Homo sapiens: one gene and its partners. The protein of the gene in region 1 purifies or fractionates together with the protein of each later gene. This does not show direct contact. Each region holds a gene or a part of one and is shown in the gene's direction. Other genes may lie near its edges.

Region 1 (5,385 bases):
GTTGTGCGCCCAACAGAACCCTCTGAGACGCAAGCTGCTCCCTTGGCTAGCTCATATGTGGAAATAGCCCTGTAATTCGAGGTAACTCCTTCCGCTCGTGTCCACATCCCTCTTGTTGAGAGCTCACTGAAAGTCATGTGCCCGGGGAATGTTCCTGTGACTGTTTTTTGTTTTTCCTTTTTTTTTTAACTTTGTTTTTGTTTTTTTCAATTAAGCTGGAACTAAAGTCAGGCCCAGCCATTACGCTCCCCACGTGCAGCCAGGTGCAGCCTGGGCCCAGTCATGCCTGGCTCATAGATGAAATCCCTTAAGCAGGATTGAAGACCAGTGAACGCCCCCGCCTTTTGGATTTTTTGCTCAATTGACCGTCTTTTCCAGACCTCTTTAAGTCACACTCTTAACTTAGCTTTCTCTGATGTCTGTTGCCGCCATTAGTTTTTTTCTAGAGCCCACACTGGCCCACATAGCTCCATCCCATACGGGTAGCTGGCTCCAGCTGCGCCAAGGTGCAGACCCGCCCTGGGCATGCTGGCCTGTGACGGAGCCTGAGGTCACAGCCCCCTGACTAGCCTGAGACCTTCCTAGGGGCTGTGGCTGTTTCCGGGGAGGCCGGGAGGGGCAGCTGTGAGCCCTGTGGAGGACGTTGGGAGTAACGCTGCTTTGCTTTGGCAGGTTGAAGGGGCCCGGCCAGGACTCGGGGAAGGGTGGCCTGAGAGCAGCGATGACCTCTGGGGTCACTGTCCCAGGAGGGACTTCACCTGGAACAAGAGCTGGAGGCAGCCGCTTGCCCAGGAGGCTTGTCCCCTGTAAGTGCTTTCGGGAAGAGTGGCATGTGGCGCTGAGCCCTGTCCCGGGCGGCACCTGGGCGTTTCAGTGAGTCCTGCTCTCCCGCACCTATGGCCCCATGGCGGGCGCCTTTCGGTGTGTGTTGGGTGCAGGGCAGCGCCTCCCGGGAGCGCCGGGTCCCCCGCCTGGAGCCCGCGCCTGTTCTCCCTCCCTTCCTCCTCCTTCCAGGAGGCGCTTCGCCAGTGAGGTGCGGGCTCAGGGCCTCGAGTCTCTCCTGGAGCACGGGCTGCGGTGCGCCGGCAGCTTACGGGGCGGCCAGTCCTTGCCCACAACGATGTGGAGCCCTGTGAAAGTCGGATTCGAATAAAGGGCCACGTGTGCACCCAGAAAGCCGAGTCTGTGGTTCAGGGGGGTCTGTCGGCGGAGCGGGGCCACTGGAAGAAAAGCCTGCGGACCTCGGTTCAGCGCACGAGTAGGACCCGACAGGGAAGACTGCAAGGGTCATTGTCCGAGCAGTGACCGCGGGGGGCTCGCCACTGAGGGGGTTCGCAGCGCGGAGACTCCAGTCTCGCGGGATCTGAGGCGCACTCGGCTTCGAGGGAGCGGCGGCCGCGCAGCCGCTGTCAGGCCCCGTCTTGGGCCGAGTCCCGGGTTCCCTGTAGCAGGCTTGGGAGCGGGGCGCCACCTTCCTGGGCCCTGGACGTGGCCGACGCGTTCTCAGTGTCCGTGAGGCCGGGGCAGGAGTGGCGGGGGTCGCCCCGAAGTGGGTGGGAATGAGCGGCCCGAGGTCCTGAAGTCGGGGTCCGCCCCGTCTCCCCGCTGCCAGCCCGATTTCCTCGGAAGCCGCGACCCCCCACGCTGGGCTGGCAGTTCTGGGCTCTGCCGGCTGCGCCTTGCCGGGACTCCCACGGGCGGGCTCCGGGCCTCCGTCCTGATCCCTTGGAGCGGTTCGACGAAGCAAGTTCCGCGGCGGGCGCGCGGGGCACTGTGGGTAGCGCCGGGGCTCACCAGGCGGAGGCGGGGCCCGGCGTCAAGCTCCGCCTCCGCGCCCCATTGGCTGGCATCACCTCCGCGCGCCTGACTGACAGCGCGCATAGGGGCGGGGCGCCGCCACCGCTTCCGCCGGGCCATGGGGCCGCGCGTGCTGCAGCCGCCGCTGCTGCTGCTCCTGCTGGCGCTGCTGCTGGCGGCGCTGCCGTGCGGTGCCGAAGAGGCCTCGCCGCTGCGCCCCGCGCAGGTCACGTTGTCGCCGCCGCCGGCCGTGACGAACGGGAGCCAGCCGGGCGCGCCACACAACAGCACGCACACGCGTCCGCCGGGGGCGTCGGGCTCGGCGCTGACGCGCTCCTTCTACGTGATCCTGGGCTTCTGCGGCCTGACCGCGCTCTACTTCCTGATCCGGGCGTTTAGGTGCGTCAGGCGCACGTGGGCGCCGTCTCTCAGCCTTGGCCAATTAGCGCGCGCCTAGTGCGTCACGTGCCGGGCCGCGGGGTCCTCCCCTCCCTCCCTCCCTCCCTCCCTCTCTCCCTGTTGGAGTGGGCGTGGGCGGTGCTGTGCGGGGTCGTCACGTGGTGTGGGCGGTGCAGGGGCCACGGGACTCACCCGCTCTCCAGCCTGCGCCTGGGGTTGGAGGTGCCCAGCGCGCCGCCTCTTAACTCGGGGGTGACGCTGCCCGTTTCCCAGGTGGGGCCACTGAAGCCGGAGCATGCCGGGCAGGGGTCAGGCCCTGGCGGGGCGAGGGGGCCTCCTTGGCTCCTTGTCGCCGGATGCCCGTCCTCGTTCTCATCTTCCCGCCTGCCGCCAGGCCTTTCCGTGGGGTCCCGATATTTTCCTTTCTGCTTCTACCCACTGAAGCTGGTTCGTCGCCAGGGTCGGCCACGTGCCCGCCTTGGGTGCTCCCACAGCCCGGGAGGTGCAGCTGCGTCCCCAGACCCTCGCGGGGGTCTCCAGCTGTAGGCAGCCCCTGGGCAGGAGGGGCTTCTGCGTGTTCAGGCCACCCCGGCTTCCCTGGCCTGTGGCTCCAGTCTCCTCTGGGCTCCTGACTACCCAGTGTGGCTGCTTCTCCCGGGTGGGAGAGACACAGCGAGGACCTTATCCCTCCCCATCACCACCCTGGCAAAGTCAAGCCGCTTTTTATTTTTTATAAGTTTTTATTGTAGCGATGGGGTCTCGCCATGTTACCCGCGCTGGTCTGAACTCCTGGGCTCAAGTGATCCTTTTTCGTTGGCCTCCCAAAGTGCTGGCATTATAGATGTGAGCACCTGCACTCCGCCATGCTGCTTTTTATGGGCCCTGTGCAGAGCCTCCCCTGTGCTCCACACCTCTTCCTGTGGAAGCACCTGCTGCGCGCTCTCCCCTGCCTGTATGCCGCGCCCTCCCTGCCTCCCGGGCTGCTGGGGCCACCAGGGGCTTGGCCCTGAGACAGGCTTCCATTCTGTTGTCTTTGGCAAAGTCTCACCCCTGTGTGAGCCTCAGTCTTTTCATCAGTGCAATGGGAGTGACATCAGCGTGCCTCTCCTGGGGTCCTGGCGCAGGGGAGATGGGAGGGCCTGGTAGGGCACATGTCTTCTTACTGTCATCGCCATGGGAGTGAATGGTAATCACTTGGCGATTAGGACATGAAAGAAGCAGGCACAGCAAAACCAGGGAGGTCTGCAGCAGGGCTCGGGGCTCCAGTAGAGGACGGCAATGAGAGTCCTGAGGGAAGGAGGAGGCAGGGTTGGCGGGGAGGGGCCACTGACTATGCCTGGACCTACTTCCAGGTTGAAGAAGCCTCAGCGGAGGCGATACGGCCTCCTCGCCAACACTGAGGACCCCACGGAGATGGCCTCGCTGGACAGCGACGAGGAGACGGTGTTTGAGTCCCGGAATCTGAGATGGTGTGCACCCTTCCCCAGCTCTGGGGCCTCGGTGGGCAGGCTGGGCTGGAGACTCAGCAGGACCCTGGGGACTTGGCCAAGCCATGGAGTGGTCCCTGCAATCACAGCTGACAGCGGTAGTCAGGCCATGGCCCCACTGGGCAGGGCTCATCCCTTCTCCCAGCCTCCATTTACAACTTTTTTTTTTTAAACTTAAATGTTTGTCATTTATTTATTTTTGAGGTGGAGTGGCGCGATCCCAACTCACTGCAACCTCCGCCTCCGGGATTGAGGCGATTTTCCTGCCACAGCCTCCCGAGTAGCTGGGATTACAGGCACCCGCCACCACGCCTCGCTAATTTTTTGTATTTAGTAGATAGAGATGGGGTTTCACCATGTTGGCCAGGCTGGGTTCCAGCTCCTTACCTCAGGTGATCCATCTGCCTGGGCTTCCCAAAGAGCTGGGATTACAGGTGTGAGCCACCGCACCTGACCTAAGTTTTGTTTTGTTTTGAGATGGAGTTTCGCTCTTGTTGCCCAGGCTGGAGTGCAATGGCACGATCTCTGCTCACTGCAACCTCCACCTCCCAGGTTCAAGCATTTCTCCCATCGCAGCCTCCTGAGTAGCTGGGATTAAAGGTGCTCACCACTACACCCGGCTAATTTTTGTAGTTTTAGTAGAGACAGGGTTTCACCATGTTGGCCAGGCTGGCCTCGAACTCCTGACCTCAGGTGATCTGCCCGCTTCGGCCTCCCAAAGTGCTGGGATTACAGGTGTGAGCCACCGTGGTCAGCCTTCTTGCTTTTTTAAGGCAGGAAAGCGGCTGCAGGGCTTAGGGTAGTGGTTGCTCCATCTGGGCCCCTCCCTGAGGGATGAGGTCTAAGTCAGGTGGAGAACTGACTGCAGGATGCTTCTGAGCGGGCGGGGTCAGGGAGGGCCTCTCCCTGGTGTAATGGGGCTGGCTTCTGGAAGAGTGTCTCAGGCCGAGGGAACAGCAGGGAGCGGCCGGGCTGCGCAGATGCCGGGCGGGACTGGGGTAGGCCTGGGCATCGAGGCAGCTGTCAGGGGTTAGCAGGGTTCTGGGCAGGGAATGATGGGTATGTTGCGCTGCAGTGTGGCTGCTGGGGGGACCTTGGCCTGTTGGGGGGTGGCAGGCATGGAGGCTGGGAGACCAGGAGACTGGGCGGCCTCTGGGGACAGCTCTGACTTTTTGAGCCCCCAGGGAGGGAGGCACTGGGATCCCTCCGCATGCTCTGACTCCATTCTGGGAACCCCTCCCAGGTTTCTTCTACCTCCTGGCTGGGGGCCCCTTCCCCCGGAGTGGGCAGTTGCACAGGGCCCAGGAGGCCGGGGAGGGAGGCCAGTGGGGGGAGGCTGGGCCCTGGTAGACCGAGGGGCCTGGACAGGCTGCCTGCCCCTGCCTGACCTGGGTGAGCCTCTGCCCGGCAGGGCGGGCCCTTCACTCCTTCCCTCTCACCCTTGACCCCCTGCTTTCAGATGCTGAGCCAGGGAGGCGGCCCTTCCAGCAGCCATGAGGGAAGGACAGGAGATGGGGCCCACCCCAGTGCCCAGCAACCCCCTGCTCCACCGCTCATTCCCCTGCTGGCCCCGGGGCTGGTCTCACCCAGTGCCAACCCGAGAGCTCCTTTTGGAACCTGCACAGCCCGCCGACCTGTTGCCACCTGCACCCACCGCTGGACCATGCAGCCTCGCCTCCTGGATGCTGTCCCAGCCTGGCCG
Region 2 (4,959 bases), on another chromosome or scaffold:
TTTTCTCTATCTGGCTTCATTCTTCAGACAAGATCCCTTCATGGGGCCAAGAAGATGGCCATCCACAGCCCAGCTTCACATTCTCCCAGTTCAGAAACACCCATAAAAGACCTTCTTTCCCCCACAACCCATATATTCATATAATGTAAGGAAAAAGATGGTTATTTCTCTGGCTGGGTCATCTCGTCCCCTGGTGCTGGACATAGAGTACTATAATTGACCATCTTTGTGCCCAAGGAAATATGGGATACTGACATTGCCACCCTCCACTAAAACCACATGAAGGGCAGAGGGTTGGATTCCCAAAGGAAAAGATGGTAGGCAGGAAAAAACAGTACATATGCACCACAACAAGTGAATACACTTTTGTCTTAAGCAACTGAACTAGCAACATTGACATTGCCTGTGAACCTGCTAGAAATGCAGAACCTCAGGTTCCAGCCCCAGAATCAGATTCTGCATTTTAAGAAGATCTCAGTGCAATTTGTATACACAATAAAGTTTGAGAAGTACTTTTGTAGAAAATTACTTTAACCCTTTAAGGGCCAATAATTACATGATTTTAACTATTTTGGATAGAAACTGTCCCTCAAAATATTTCCACATAAGTGAGTTGTTAACTATATCAACTTCCAAATGAGCAGCTTGGACATAAAGTGCTGTAGAGAAAGGCCTGGAGTGGTCAGGAGAGGTTTCTGAAGGGAGGGTAGCCTTGGCCTACAGGGAAGAAATGTTTGTACTCTGTTCAGAGGGCAGTGAGGAGCCATGGGGCTTGAATAATGAATCCTTAGGGACAGTTGTGTCAGATTATGAAGGACAACATCTCATGCTTTGCAAAAGTGACTGGTCCCCCACTGCCTACAGGGTCAGGTTTAATGAAGGATTTGAAACAGGCTAGTAACGTGACCTGACTTGTATTTAAAAACAAACAAGCAAATAAACAAAAAACCTCTGGATGGGGTGCAGAGAATGGACTGGAAGAGGAGACCAACTAAGAAGCTGATTAAGAAGCTGTTGTAATAGTTCAGGTGAGAAAAAAAAAGTGCCTGAACTAAAGCAGTGGTCACAACTGTAGAGAAAACGTCTGTGAGGAGTTTTATGGAGGAAGACTTGACAGCTTCATAAGAGGTCAGGAAGAAGGAGATAATGATGACATCAACATGGAAACACAGGGGATGTAGAAGGCTGGGGAAAGGGGAAAGAAATGAGTTGTTTAGATTGTTGAGTTTGAAATGTCCACAGATAAAGATGTCCAAAGGGCACTTGAATATATAGTAGAGCTCTAGAGACAGCTCATGGCTGCAGATACAGAAAGGTTTATTTCCATTCTGATAAACTAAAAAAAAAAGTAATTATTACTTTATTTGTAGATACTATAGCCATATGAAGTTGAACATGGCAGAAGAAGAGGACTATATGTCTGATTCCTTCATTAATGTCCAGTAAGTAAATGTGCACACCCAGTGCAATGATATGTATAAGATGTGTAGATTAAGAAATGACATTGATTTTATTTTATTTTATTTTATTTTTTTGAGACAGGGTCTCATTCTGTTAGCAAGGCTGGAGTGCAGTGGCACAATCTTAGCTCACTGCAGCCTCAAACTCTCCAGGCTCAGGAGATCCTCCCATCTTGGCCTCCCGAGTAGTTGGGACTGCAGGCCTGCACCATCATGCCCGGCTAACTCTTCTTTTTTATTATTTGGAGAGACAAGGTCTCACTGTGTTGCCAAGGCTGGTCTCCAACTCCTGGGCTCAGGCGATCCTCCGGCTTTGGCCTCCCAAAGTGCTAGGATTACAGGCATGAACCACCGTGCCCAGCCTGACAGTGATTTTAAATGTGCAGTGGGAAAGTCAGTCTTCTTGCTTTATGGAAATACCTCCTATGTCACCATAGAAAGATACTAGAATCTACTTCCTCCTTTTAATGCTAACCATTTTACTTTTGCCCTTGATCCTTTTTATTGCCTTCTTCCAAGGAAATTTACTCCTTTTCCTTTATTACATCATATTGTCTCTTCTAGCTGCTATACAACTTTGTTCTTTATTATTGCCAACATCCTAGAAACATAGTAAGTCTAAACTTACTATATCTGATTTCTTCAACTTCGTGCTTTCCTTATTTTCCTATGATCTGGCACCAGCCTTCATCATTTCTACTAAAACAGCCATTCTTAGAGGTCACTGATTATGTTCTAATATCATAATAACAAAGATGATCATAGAGGTAGTGCCGAAATATTAACTGTTGTCAGGTGAGTAAGTGACAGAGTTATGAGAAAACTTGGCCAGGCGTGGAAGCTCACGCCTGTAATCCCAGCACTTTGAGAGGCTGAGGCGGGCAGATCACCTGGAGTCAGGAGTTCAAGACCAGCCTGGCCAACATGGCAAAACCCCGTCTCTACTAAAAATACAAAAAATAGCCGGGCATGGTCGTGGGCGCCTGTAATCTCAGTTACTCAGGAGGCTGAGGCAAGAGAATCGGTTGAACCCAGGAGGCGGAGGTTGCAGTGAGCCAAGATTATGCCATTGCATTACAGCCCGGGCAACAAGAGCGAAACTCCGTCTCAAAAAATAAAAAAAAAAAAAAAGAAAAGAAAACTTTATGGACTCATCTAAAATAAACTTTTCCCTTATTCAGAGAAGATATCAGACCAGGATTGCCAATGCTAAGGCAAATCCGAGAAGCCCGTCGAAAAGAAGAAAAGCAACAGGAAGCCAATTTGAAAAACAGGCAGAAGAGTTTAAAAGAAGAAGAACAAGAAAGACGTGACATTGGGTTGAAGAATGCACTAGGCTGTGAAAACAAAGGGTTTGCCTTGCTCCAAAAGATGGGCTATAAAAGTGGTCAGGCACTTGGCAAGAGTGGTAAGTCACATGTGGAAATAAACAGGTATTCCTTACCACCTAATTGTGACTTATGGATAAGGACCAAAGCTGATGCTTTAATCTTTATCTACACAGAAATTATAACAACTTAGGCTTTTTAGTCTATTATGTATTAACAAGCCTTATGGAGAGCTTTTCATCATCCCACATCCATTTTAGATACCACATGTGCCATCAAGAGCTGCTTATCAGCCCAGCTTAGCTGAAGGCACTAACAACCTAGATGGATGTGGCTTACAACAGAAGAAGCAAAGAATGGTGATAAGTGATGGGTTGAGAAGTGCAATGGCTAAATACATTGAAACAACACTGAGGATGATGGCAAGACTTTGCCCTGCTTGCTCTGTACCTGTGGCAGCCATCTGAATGACCGTCCAGTTGGAGAGGCTCAATTCTCACCTCTCTTTTTAGGAAGTGAAACTGCTTATTAAGCTAGAGAGGCTATATATTTATAGTAACCTCTGTAAACCGTTTTTCTTTCCTTTATCGTAATTGCTTTGCTTTCACTTAAGGCTGTCACCGTCTTGCACCAATAATATCAGTGTTGTTCCTTCTTAAAACTCCACCTTCAGGTGGCATAGGAGGCTGTGAATCAGCCTTTTTGATGAGTAGGTATTTGAAGACAAGGTAGATAATTGATTATATATAGAATATATATAGATGTTCAGATTTCAATTTTGAATATCATTGAAACAGGAGGGCATATGCATAGAGCATTGTAAAGTTGCATACTTATACTGTTCTGTAGTTTGAGGAAAATTTTCTAAAATAGTTTGTATTCATTCTCTTTAAGGGGGTGGTATTGTTGAACCAATTCCTCTCAATATCAAAACAGGTACGTAATTATTTTGGAGCATATTTGCCAATAATAATAACTTACGCTTAGGTCTACCACATATATTTGCTCAATAAATACTTTTTTTTAAATGATAATACTGTTACAGTTCAGTAAAATTTTGTTAAATTTCTAAACCTCTTCAACCAGAAAAGAAATAAGTTTTAGTGAGTATAAAATAAAATTTAAACCACACGAATATGGGAAGAACAAATCATTACAACCATTGAATGTGCAATACTGTTTTTGTCCATTGAAATGTCTTAAAACTGTTTTGCTCTGGGAGGCCGATGCAGAAGGATTGCTTAAAGCCAAGAGTTGGCCGGGCGTGGTGGCTCACACCTGTAATCCCAGCACTTTGGGTGGCCGAGGCAGGCAGATCACCTGAGGTTGGGAGTTCAAGACCAGCCTGACCAACATGGAGAAACCCCATCTCTACTAAAAATACAGAATTAGCCGGGCATGGTGGTGCATGCCTGTAATCCCAGCTACTTGGGAGGCTGAGGCAGGAGAATCGCTTGAACCCAGGAGGCAGAGATTGCAGTGAGCTAAGATTGCGCCATTGCACTCCAGCCTGGGCAACAAGAGTGAAATTCCATCTCAAGGAAAAAAAAAAAAAAGCAGCCAGGAATTTGAGACCAGCCTGGGCAACATAGCAAGACCTCATCTCTGCAAAAAATTTAAAAAATTAACCGGGTGTAGTGGCACGCACCTGTAGTCCTTGCTATTCAGGAGGCTGAGGCGGGACGATTCCTGGAGCCCACAAGTTCGAGGTTACAGTGAGCCATGATTGTGCCACTACATACCAGCCTGTCCCTATAAAAATAAAATAAAATAAAAGTGTTCTGAGACAGATTTATCTACCAAATGTTTTGCTTAATACTTGGATGAATTCAAGAGAAAAAGATATATTTTATTCATATTTAAATAAAACTATAACAGCTAATACTGTTTTTCTGATTTGAAAAATTGTTTATAATATTACTATAAGATGAGATTAACAATCTTTGTAAAAATCAGATTATGTTTTGGGCTTAAAAAAAACCCTAGTGTTTTCTACTATTAGTGTACTCAAATGATTTGTGAGTGATAGTACTCAAATGAGAATTGCATTTAATTTGTACATAGTTAAATCGTCTTGTTTTGAAGCACAAAGTCAGGATGTTTCTCATCAGAATTTTCTGTTTGAATAGGGAAAAGTGGCATTGGTCATGAGGCATCATTAAAACGGAAAG
Region 3 (4,959 bases), on another chromosome or scaffold:
ACATGGGACCACAGGGAGATTGTTATTCCACATCCATGGGAGTAAAAGGGGGACTGACAATCTCAGATTCAGGAAGAGCGGGATGGTTTCTAAGGATTCACACCTATATTACCCCTTCATAAGCTAAGATGGACTTCAGTAAGAGAATCTGAAAGTGCCCCAAGACCATGGGGCCATCTGGAGAAGCTGGCTATGGAGTGTCCCCAGCATCTTGGAGCAACTGAGCAGGAGTCCATATTGGGCCTGGTTCAGATGTCTCCTTGGTCCAGGGCCCCCATCTTTCCTTGCTGCTGTAGAAAACTTGGTTTCTTTTTCACCAACGAGATGCAAAAAAAATAAAAATAAAAAGTTGAATTTTAATTTTAATTTAAAAGAAAAAGAAAACCCACTCTCTTCCTAGAAGGGTCATTTCTGCCTCCTCTTATCTGCCCTCCCGTAAATGTGCACAGCAGCATCTGCAGTGAAATAAGGGGCTGGTGCTGGCCCAAAGTAGGAAAAGGATAAATGGACCTCCATCTGCTCTAACTTCCCAACCATGGCTGAAAGTTCCTGCAGCATCTGGAAGGGAAGCAGGCTGGGGCCTGGTGTTGGCTTCTGAAGGGGGTTGGGATATGGGAGCCTCCTCACTGCAGGAGCCTTGTGCCCATCTGCCCAGTTTGGTCCTAGGCTGCTCCGGATGTCTCACTCCCTTTATCTGTCAGCCTTTGTGAGGGATGGGGTGACAGGAAGTAGTGTGCCCATCTGCACTTTAATTCCCAGCTAGGTTAAGACAGGTCCTTATTTTAACTCACTACTCACCTGCTAAGGATCTTGAACAAAGTAGATCCTGCTGTGTATACAGAAGTCTACAACGATGAAAGTGCATGGCAAGCGTGGCCTTGGGGAAGTAGAGTGGGAAGGAAGTATTCCTCCTGTGCCTGGCCTGCTCCTGTGGCCGCAGCATCCCTGGGCGGGACACTCTTATCTGCTTCACTTGACCACCCCTTCTGCTTTTCCCATCTCTGTCCCCTGCCTGCTGTCAGGGACCCATTTGCTTTGCTCCTGCTTTGTCCTGCACCGTATATCCAGGTGTTGCCCTAAAGCCCTTTCCTGGACACCTAGAGGATGCCTTTTGGAAAAGCCTCAGACAGGTGAAGCCTGGGGTTACTGTAATCTCATCTGACCCAGTCCTTACCCTAAAAGATCAGCTCCAGCCCAGCTTCTCCCACAGGAGCCCAGATTCTCCCCAGCCTGGAGCCTAAAGCTTGTATCTGGGAATTTAAGTCTTCTTAATGTCTTGATTCCTGGCTCTGACTTTCTTCCCTGCTGCTACCCTCCTGAGGTGGCTCAGGCCAGAACCCTTGAAGGCAGGTCAGGGTCAGTGTATGAGCTTGGATTGGAGTAGGTGAAGGATGGAAGAGGCGCATTGGAAGGGCAAGGAAGAGGTACTGGCAGGACCACTGAGGATCGAGACTTAAGGTGATTGCTGTGCCTCAGGATTCATTTTGGCTATGGGGGAGGCAGTCTATTCCCTCACCTGCAGAATACCAGGGATCCATGAGCCCCTCACACCAAGGTTAGAGAAGGAAAGAGATGAGGAGCTGCATTTCTGAGAAGTAGTTAAAATCTAGATGCTCCCCTCACCTCCAAGCAGGGCAGCACTTCCTGGAACATGCCCTTTTTCATCCCCATCAGAGCAGGAAGGCGTGGGTGGCTGCTTGGCAGACGGGTGTGACTTCAGGGGCAGATACTCCTAGCCTGGATGAACAGGATGGGGCTGAATTTGGCCAAAGGAGGAAGAAGAGCTACTCACTGTCTGCCCCTGCCCATCCTGTCTACTCCTAACCTTAAGGCCACCTTGATTCCTGGGCTGGCTCCACATCTCCAGCCTCCAGCATCTCTTTCCAGAGTCCTATGCATGCCCATGTGTCAGAGGCTTTCTGCCTGAGCTGCAGCTTTGAGAGGGTTTGTGGGTGAAGAAAGTATGTGTGTAGGAATTGGCTTCTCTGACCCAAGTGCCAACTCGGGGCTTTGCTGGCCTGGGGTCAGGTCGTTTGAGGTTCCAGGCTATATTCTGTAAGAGTCGGGAAGACTTTTGCATAGGGGCTGTTACTGTGACTGCTCCCTCTCCTTGCCTGTCTGTCTCTTATCCCACTGCTCCTAACACTCCGTACTTTGTAGATCCTCCTGTAGCTATAAGGAGAGGGTGCATTGTGCTGGGAGGTAGAGAGATTTGGGGTGCTTATGGTAGCAACCAGAGGAACTTAGCTGAGCTTTATACATTTTTCTTAAATAATAATAAAAGCAAGCAATATTCATTACAAACAGCTCAGAAAACATTGCTTGCATACATGTGGAGTCTTCTTGTGGGCTTTTTCTTTCTATGAGTACATGTACATTACATACACCTACCTGTAGAAGTCAGATTTTCATGGAGCTGGCAGCTTGGAAGCAGGGTGGAGCTGGTGTTTTGGGGTGAAGATGAGCTCTGAGGCTGTGCTCTGAGAGGAGCTTTGAAAGCCCGCAAGGGAGGGGAGAAGAGGGGGATTTTTCCCCTCTCTGGAGCTGGTTTGGGAGGAAGCAGGAGGCGAAGCAGAGCAAGGCCAGACTGCAGGGAGCTGGAGCCTCAGTGGTATGTACCAGCCGTGTCCAAGAGTAACAGTCCCCAAGTTGCTCCAGGGCAGATGGGGCTCACTGGGGCTGCCTTCTCTCTGGGGGGTCTTAGGGTGGGAAGGGATTCACTTCCCTTCAGTGTTTGGAGAGGGCTGGCTCATCCTTTGGCTGCCTGGAAGCCCAGTAACTGTTGTTGAGATGGGGGGCAGTCTCTTCCCCATTGTTAGTCCCTACGGTGGGGCTTCCCTAAGGAGAGTCCCAGGTCTTGGCCAGACCAGAAGCTCAGGCAAGCGTATGCTCCAGCCCCAGTGAAATGAGTCCTTCCCCAGGATCCTGTGAGGCCTCCCACCCCATTCACACAGGGAGAGCTCCGACAGGAAAAGAGAGGTTCTTGCCTTATAGGGCCACCCAGCGCCCAGCCTCTCCTGGTCTCAAGCCCTAGCCCCACCCCCTCTGATAGCCTTGCTTATCTTTTTGGTTATTGTGGTAAAAAATGTGTAACATAAAATTTACCATCTTAACCCTTTTTTAAGTGTGCTGTTCAATAGTACTACGTATATTCACCTCATTGTACAACAGATCTCCAGAACTCCTCATCTTCCCCAGCTGAAGCTCTGTACCTATTAAACACTCACTCTTTTCCCTGCTCCCCCAGCGCCTTGCTTCCACCATTCTTCTTTCCGCCTCTATGAATTTGACTACTTAGGCTGGGCTCGGTGCCTCATACCTGTAGTCCCCACACTTTGGGAGGTCGAGGCGAGAGGATCCTTTGAGCCCAGGAGTTCGAGACCAGCCTGGGCAATATAGTGAAACCCCTGTCTCTACAAAAAATACAAAAATTAGCCAGGTGTGGTGGTGCATGCCTCTAGTCCCAACTACCCGAGAGACTGAGATGGGAGGATGGCTGGAGCCCGAAGCCATGATTGCACCACTGCACTCCAGCCTGGGCCACAGAGTGAGACCGTGTCTCAAGAAAAAAAAAAAAAAAAAAAAGAATTTGACTACTTTGGATACCTCAGATAAGTGTTTTTTATCTGAGTGTTTTATCATACAGTGTTTTTTATGACTAGAGTAATGTCCTCAAGGTTCATCCATGTTGTGGCATATGACAGGATTTCCTTCCTTTTTAAGGCTGAGAAATATTCCATGGTATATATGTACCACACTTTGCATATTTTGTTTATCCATTCATTCCTTGATGGACATTTGGGTTGCTTCCACCTCTTGGTTATTACATATAGTGCTACTATGAACATGGGCATATTAATATATCTTCAAGACCTTGCTTTCTATTCTTTTGGATAAATATCCAGAAGTGGGATTGCTGGATCATGTGGTAGTTTTATTTTTAATTTTTTGAGGAACCACCGTACTGTTTTTCATAGCAGCTGCACCATTTTATAGTCCCACCAAGAGTGCACAAGGGTTCCAATCTCCACATGCTTTTTTCTTTTCTTGAGACGGAGTCTTGCTCTGTCACCCAGGCTGGAGTGCAGTGGCACTGTCTCGGCTCACTGCAACCTCCAACTCCCAAGTTCAAGCAATTCTTCTGCCTCAGCCTCCCCAGTAGCTGGGATTACAGGTGTGCGCCACCATTCCCGGCTAATTTTTGTATTTTTAGTAGAAACAGGGTTTCACTATGTTTGCCAGGCTGGTCTCCAACTCCTGACCTCAAGTGATCCACTTTCCTTGGCCTCCCAAAGTGCTGGGATTACAGGCATGAGCCACTATGCCCAGCCCAAACTCTACATCCTTGCTAACACTGATTATTTTCTGGGTTTTTAAATAGTAACCATCCTAATGAGTGTGAGGTGATCTCTTACTAATCTACAGTATTGCTCAACTTTATTTTATCTATTTTATTTTATTTTATTTTATTTTATTTTATTTTATTTTATTTTATTTTTGAGACAGAGTTTCACTCTTATTGCCCAGGCTGGAGTGCAGTGGTGCGATCTTGGCTCACTGCAACCTCCACCTCTTGGGTTCAAGCGATTCTCCTGCCTCAGCCTCCCGAGTAGCTTGGGATTACAAGCATGTGCCACCACGACCAGCTAATTTTTGTATTTTCAGTAGAGACGGGGTTTCTCCATGTTGGTCAGGCTGGTCTCAAACTCCTGGCCTCAGGTGATCTGCCCGCCTCGGCCTCCCAAAGTGCTGGGATTATAGGTGTGAGCCGCTGCGCTCGGCCACTGCTCATCTTTAACGACAGAGTGTGGGTGTTGGAATTGCCTTGAAAGACCATCTGATCTGGTCCCTGAATTGAACATTTTTCAAGAGCTTGAGGCCCTTGTAACTTGTCTAAGGTGTCCAGCCGGTCTACGTGAGGAGGTGTACTGGGGAGATAAGCAGGGGGCCATCCCTGCT
Region 4 (3,722 bases), on another chromosome or scaffold:
TTGAGGTCTTGGTAGTTTTTTTTTTTTTTTTAAACATGGTGCCACTTTTAATTAACTAAATGTTACAAAATTCTCAGCATTTGTTTTTGTCTGGTAGTATTATTGAGTCTTTTCATACACTTCTTAAAATGTGAAAATCTATGTTTTCAGTATTATGACAGTATCTGCAGATACTATAATAATATGCTTTGGCCAAATTTGCTGTTTATAGAGTGAACCAAGATGTCAGTTTTGTATTGGGGATATGTTTTACATAAATAGAACTCATTTAAAAGTATGGTTCAAGTACTGCTCTTCTTTTTATGGGGAAATTGATTTTTAAGGAGCGATTCTTTTCCTATATAAAAGCTATTGAGGCTTAGCTTTATTCATACATGAGTGATTTGGTTATAACTCAATCAAAATTTTTATCTTTAAATCTGAGACAAGTATTATATTTAAAACTAGATCTATTAATACATTCATCACTGCCTGAAAATTTGCTGTTCTAATGTTTGTGAATTTTCACTCATTACCTAGAGTAAACTTATTGCATATTTTCATAATCAGTCAAAATAATAAAACTAAAAACAAAAAGTAAAAATTAGTTCCCAAGTAAATATATCAGTGTTTCCTGTGTTTGGGCAGAAGTGCAAAGTAGTTTTAATTTCTCACGTTGTAGAAAAAGAGGCCAAAAAGGTCACCTTAGTTTATTTTTCCAAAACATAACTTTAGGTATTCTAATGTATTTTGTTAGTTGCTTAGAAATGGAAATAAAATATATGTGCTTATTAAATAATGCACAGTACACTAGATTATAGAGTTTATTTTTGCTTTTATGCTTTAAAGAATGCATGCCCAAAACACTACTACCAACAAGAGGATTTTTTAAAATCACAGAATTGATATTTATCTCAAGACTATCTTAAGCTAATGTACTTCTGTTACATAATTAAACTATTTCTGCTATTATTTTTAAAGCAGTATTATTTTATAACCAATTCTAAAATTCAGCTTTAAAAATATTGAACATACCTTCCTACCACTTACGCTTCAAGTTTCATTTATTGAATACCAGGGTCATATCTTAGAATTGTATATAAAACAACATGTAACCCATTCATGAAAAACGTTTTTAAGTATTGCTTTTTGCTGCTATGTTCTGCATTGAGCCTAGTTTTGCCATTGTCCCCTGAATGTAGTATTATCTATAGATTATACATAACTACATCTATTGCTTTTGGTGGTAAATCAAGATTTAGTTGTAATTTTCCAGCTGTGAAAATGTTGCCTTGTATTTAAAAGGGTTTCATGAATGGAAACCTAAGTAAAACTAAGCTCATTAGTGACAGACTTGTTTTCTTCTTGTTATTCCTCCAGCAACTCCCTCACCACCACGCCTCCCTGCCTACCATCCCCGGAAGGGTGCTTATTCTTTAACAAAGAGAATCTAAAAAAAAAAACAAAAAACTGTTGTCTAATATATCTACAGTAAATGTTACACTAGAGCTTTTATTTTCCTCTGTAGCTTTTCAGAAGAAGCAATTTACCTTGGATTTGTAAATCAAGCTGAAACTTTTTTGATGTTCATGTACTCATATGTCTTGTAGGTGGTAGGTGTCACTTGTGTGTATGTGTAAGTGAAGTATGATGCATGCTCATTCACTTGGTCCCTTTGAAATAAGGGAAAGGATCACAGTGCTGCTGGGCCATGATGGTATGTAGAAGGGTCTGTCAGCACACATGGAAAGCCCCCATTTGCACAGATGTAGAACTTTAATAATCCAGATGCAATCATTGGAAGTATTTAATATGCAATTGGTAGCACCTTAGCTAATTAATCTGCATATGAAGCATTTTCTGATATATTTAATAAGAGGTATAGAAGCTCTTCAAGCATTAAAATAGAGTTGATGTTTCATTCCATTTGTTTTATCCATCAAAAAATGCACTCTCACAGTGGAGTTGAAGTCTAATACATGATACATGTGGGCCTGTTAGTCTTCGAAGCTTCCAGATGGTTTGTGTTTTGAGGTACAAAAAAATGCTGCAGATCTAGAAATGCATATATTTAGCGGGTATTTGAAAGATAGAAGCATTATTTATAACTGAAGAGTATAACACTTATCTTCTTAAGTAAATGCTCTCATAACTTGTATACATTTTTGCAGGTACAAATTCAAAAGTATGTAAGCATTGTATAATGTGACAATTGTATAATTTATGTAATCTGATGCATGAATCAGAATTTTTATATAATATATGATTATTGACTTATAGTTGATTAAAGTGTTTAAACTTAATTCAGTTGTCAACATTTATTACAGATACAGCGGTGTTACCATAATGGATTTATATATGAGTCCTCCTTGTTTTTTAATAAATACCTAGGATGCCTCTTATTTGGTGTATTGTAGCACATATTCTGTAAGACCTACAAACTTATTTTACTATGAAGATAGTTCTGAAAAGTCATTCAAAAGAGTAGTTTTTAAGTACAAGTGAACATTCTTCAACAAATGTGTGGATGCCCTCTACATATAAGACATCCCCTCATAGGGATGGAGCTTACGATTTAGTAGAAATGATATTTGAGTATTTATATATAGGCTAAGGTCTCTGCTGAGTACTTCCTATTTATGCTTTATTTTATTTCTCACAACAACCCTGTAAGGTAGGGAATGCACAAGCTTTCAGAGGAAATGTAAGAAAACCTTTTGTGGTACTGAAGAAAGTAGAATAGGGTTGGTACAGCCGGTAGCATTTTTCACCACTTCTTATCCTCCAGCATCTACCAGAAGTCATTAATCAGTCACCACTTCCAGTCCCCTCAACACAACAGTCTAAGTGCATGCCCCTCCATCCGAGGTATGGGTACATTTTTATGGCAGTGTATTAGGCAGTTGTATTCTAGATTATGGGACATGAACCATATGTAGTCTTAGACATAAATCATACATATTTGGCACAAGGGATTTCTCAGCAGACCAGAACGCCTTTCTGTTCTGGAATTGTAGTCCCTTCTGGAGGCCCGTTGAACCTGTCCCTCTACTTCTCCCAGCACATCTCCTTTAGATTCTTCTTTCCACCTGCCCACAGCATGCACGTTTCTTTTTCCTTACTCTGCTGAGGCAAAAATATTTGGAGTAATTTGGAAGTGGAGAGCTGTTATGAGTCTGTTAAGGTGGCCATTTTTCATGTAGGGCTTGTGACCTAAATGCCCAACATTTGACATTTTTCCTCAGATAATTTTGCATGATACCACAACTTCATACTTTTATATTTTTATGATTATACAGTTAATACTTATAAGCAATATTTAATTTTGTATTTATGTACCTATAATTACATGAACTAAAAGTGCTTAATTTTGATCTTACAGTCCTCACACCCTAAAACTTGATTCTTAAATGTTCAGTGGTTTCATCATTTGGCATACTGAAAAGCGAAATTTATGCTAGGAAGCACAAAATCAAATTTCTCTGTCAGAGGATTTCAATTAATGGTGTGTTGTGTTCAGATGTAAGGTATGGTATGGTTGGTCACTAACATTAGTACCAAAGTTTGCGCGTAATTTTTTAAAATTAGAACAATGTAAAGATTATTGCTATGATAGTGTTACATTCTGTTATGCTCTGGCAAATGATGGAAAAGTGTGTTGAGAGTGAGACTGGGGGTTATGTGCAGTTCCCAGCAAACTTTCTCATTTGTGCTGCAACCCTTAGTGCAGGAATTGCAAACTC

What was found.
Region 2: the proteins of FAM174C (region 1) and GPATCH11 purify together in Homo sapiens (co-immunoprecipitation; one large-scale study listed by IntAct). This does not show direct contact.
Region 3: the proteins of FAM174C (region 1) and SLC41A1 purify together in Homo sapiens (affinity purification with mass spectrometry; one large-scale study listed by BioGRID and IntAct). This does not show direct contact.
Region 4: the proteins of FAM174C (region 1) and RAB11FIP2 purify together in Homo sapiens (affinity purification with mass spectrometry; one large-scale study listed by BioGRID and IntAct). This does not show direct contact.

What each region holds. Positions count from the first base shown.
Region 1 is NC_000019.10:1,273,635-1,279,019, forward strand, and holds the start of FAM174C (protein FAM174C precursor), read left to right. Parts: upstream 1-1,895; 5' UTR 1,896-1,915; coding exon 1,916-2,196; intron 2,197-3,548; coding exon 3,549-3,665; intron 3,666-5,142; coding exon 5,143-5,143; 3' UTR 5,144-5,385.
Region 2 is NC_000002.12:37,086,999-37,091,957, forward strand, and holds part of GPATCH11 (G patch domain-containing protein 11), read left to right. Parts: intron 1-1,370; 5' UTR 1,371-1,383; coding exon 1,384-1,442; intron 1,443-2,641; coding exon 2,642-2,868; intron 2,869-3,682; coding exon 3,683-3,724; coding exon of another isoform or gene 3,725-3,728; intron 3,729-4,917; coding exon 4,918-4,959.
Region 3 is NC_000001.11:205,802,259-205,807,217, reverse strand, and holds part of SLC41A1 (solute carrier family 41 member 1), read left to right. Parts: intron 1-4,959. UniProt on the Homo sapiens protein: Na(+)/Mg(2+) ion exchanger that acts as a predominant Mg(2+) efflux system at the plasma membrane.
Region 4 is NC_000010.11:118,003,476-118,007,197, reverse strand, and holds the end of RAB11FIP2 (rab11 family-interacting protein 2), read left to right. Parts: 3' UTR 1-2,282; downstream 2,283-3,722. UniProt on the Homo sapiens protein: A Rab11 effector binding preferentially phosphatidylinositol 3,4,5-trisphosphate (PtdInsP3) and phosphatidic acid (PA) and acting in the regulation of the transport of vesicles from the endosomal recycling compartment (ERC) to the plasma membrane.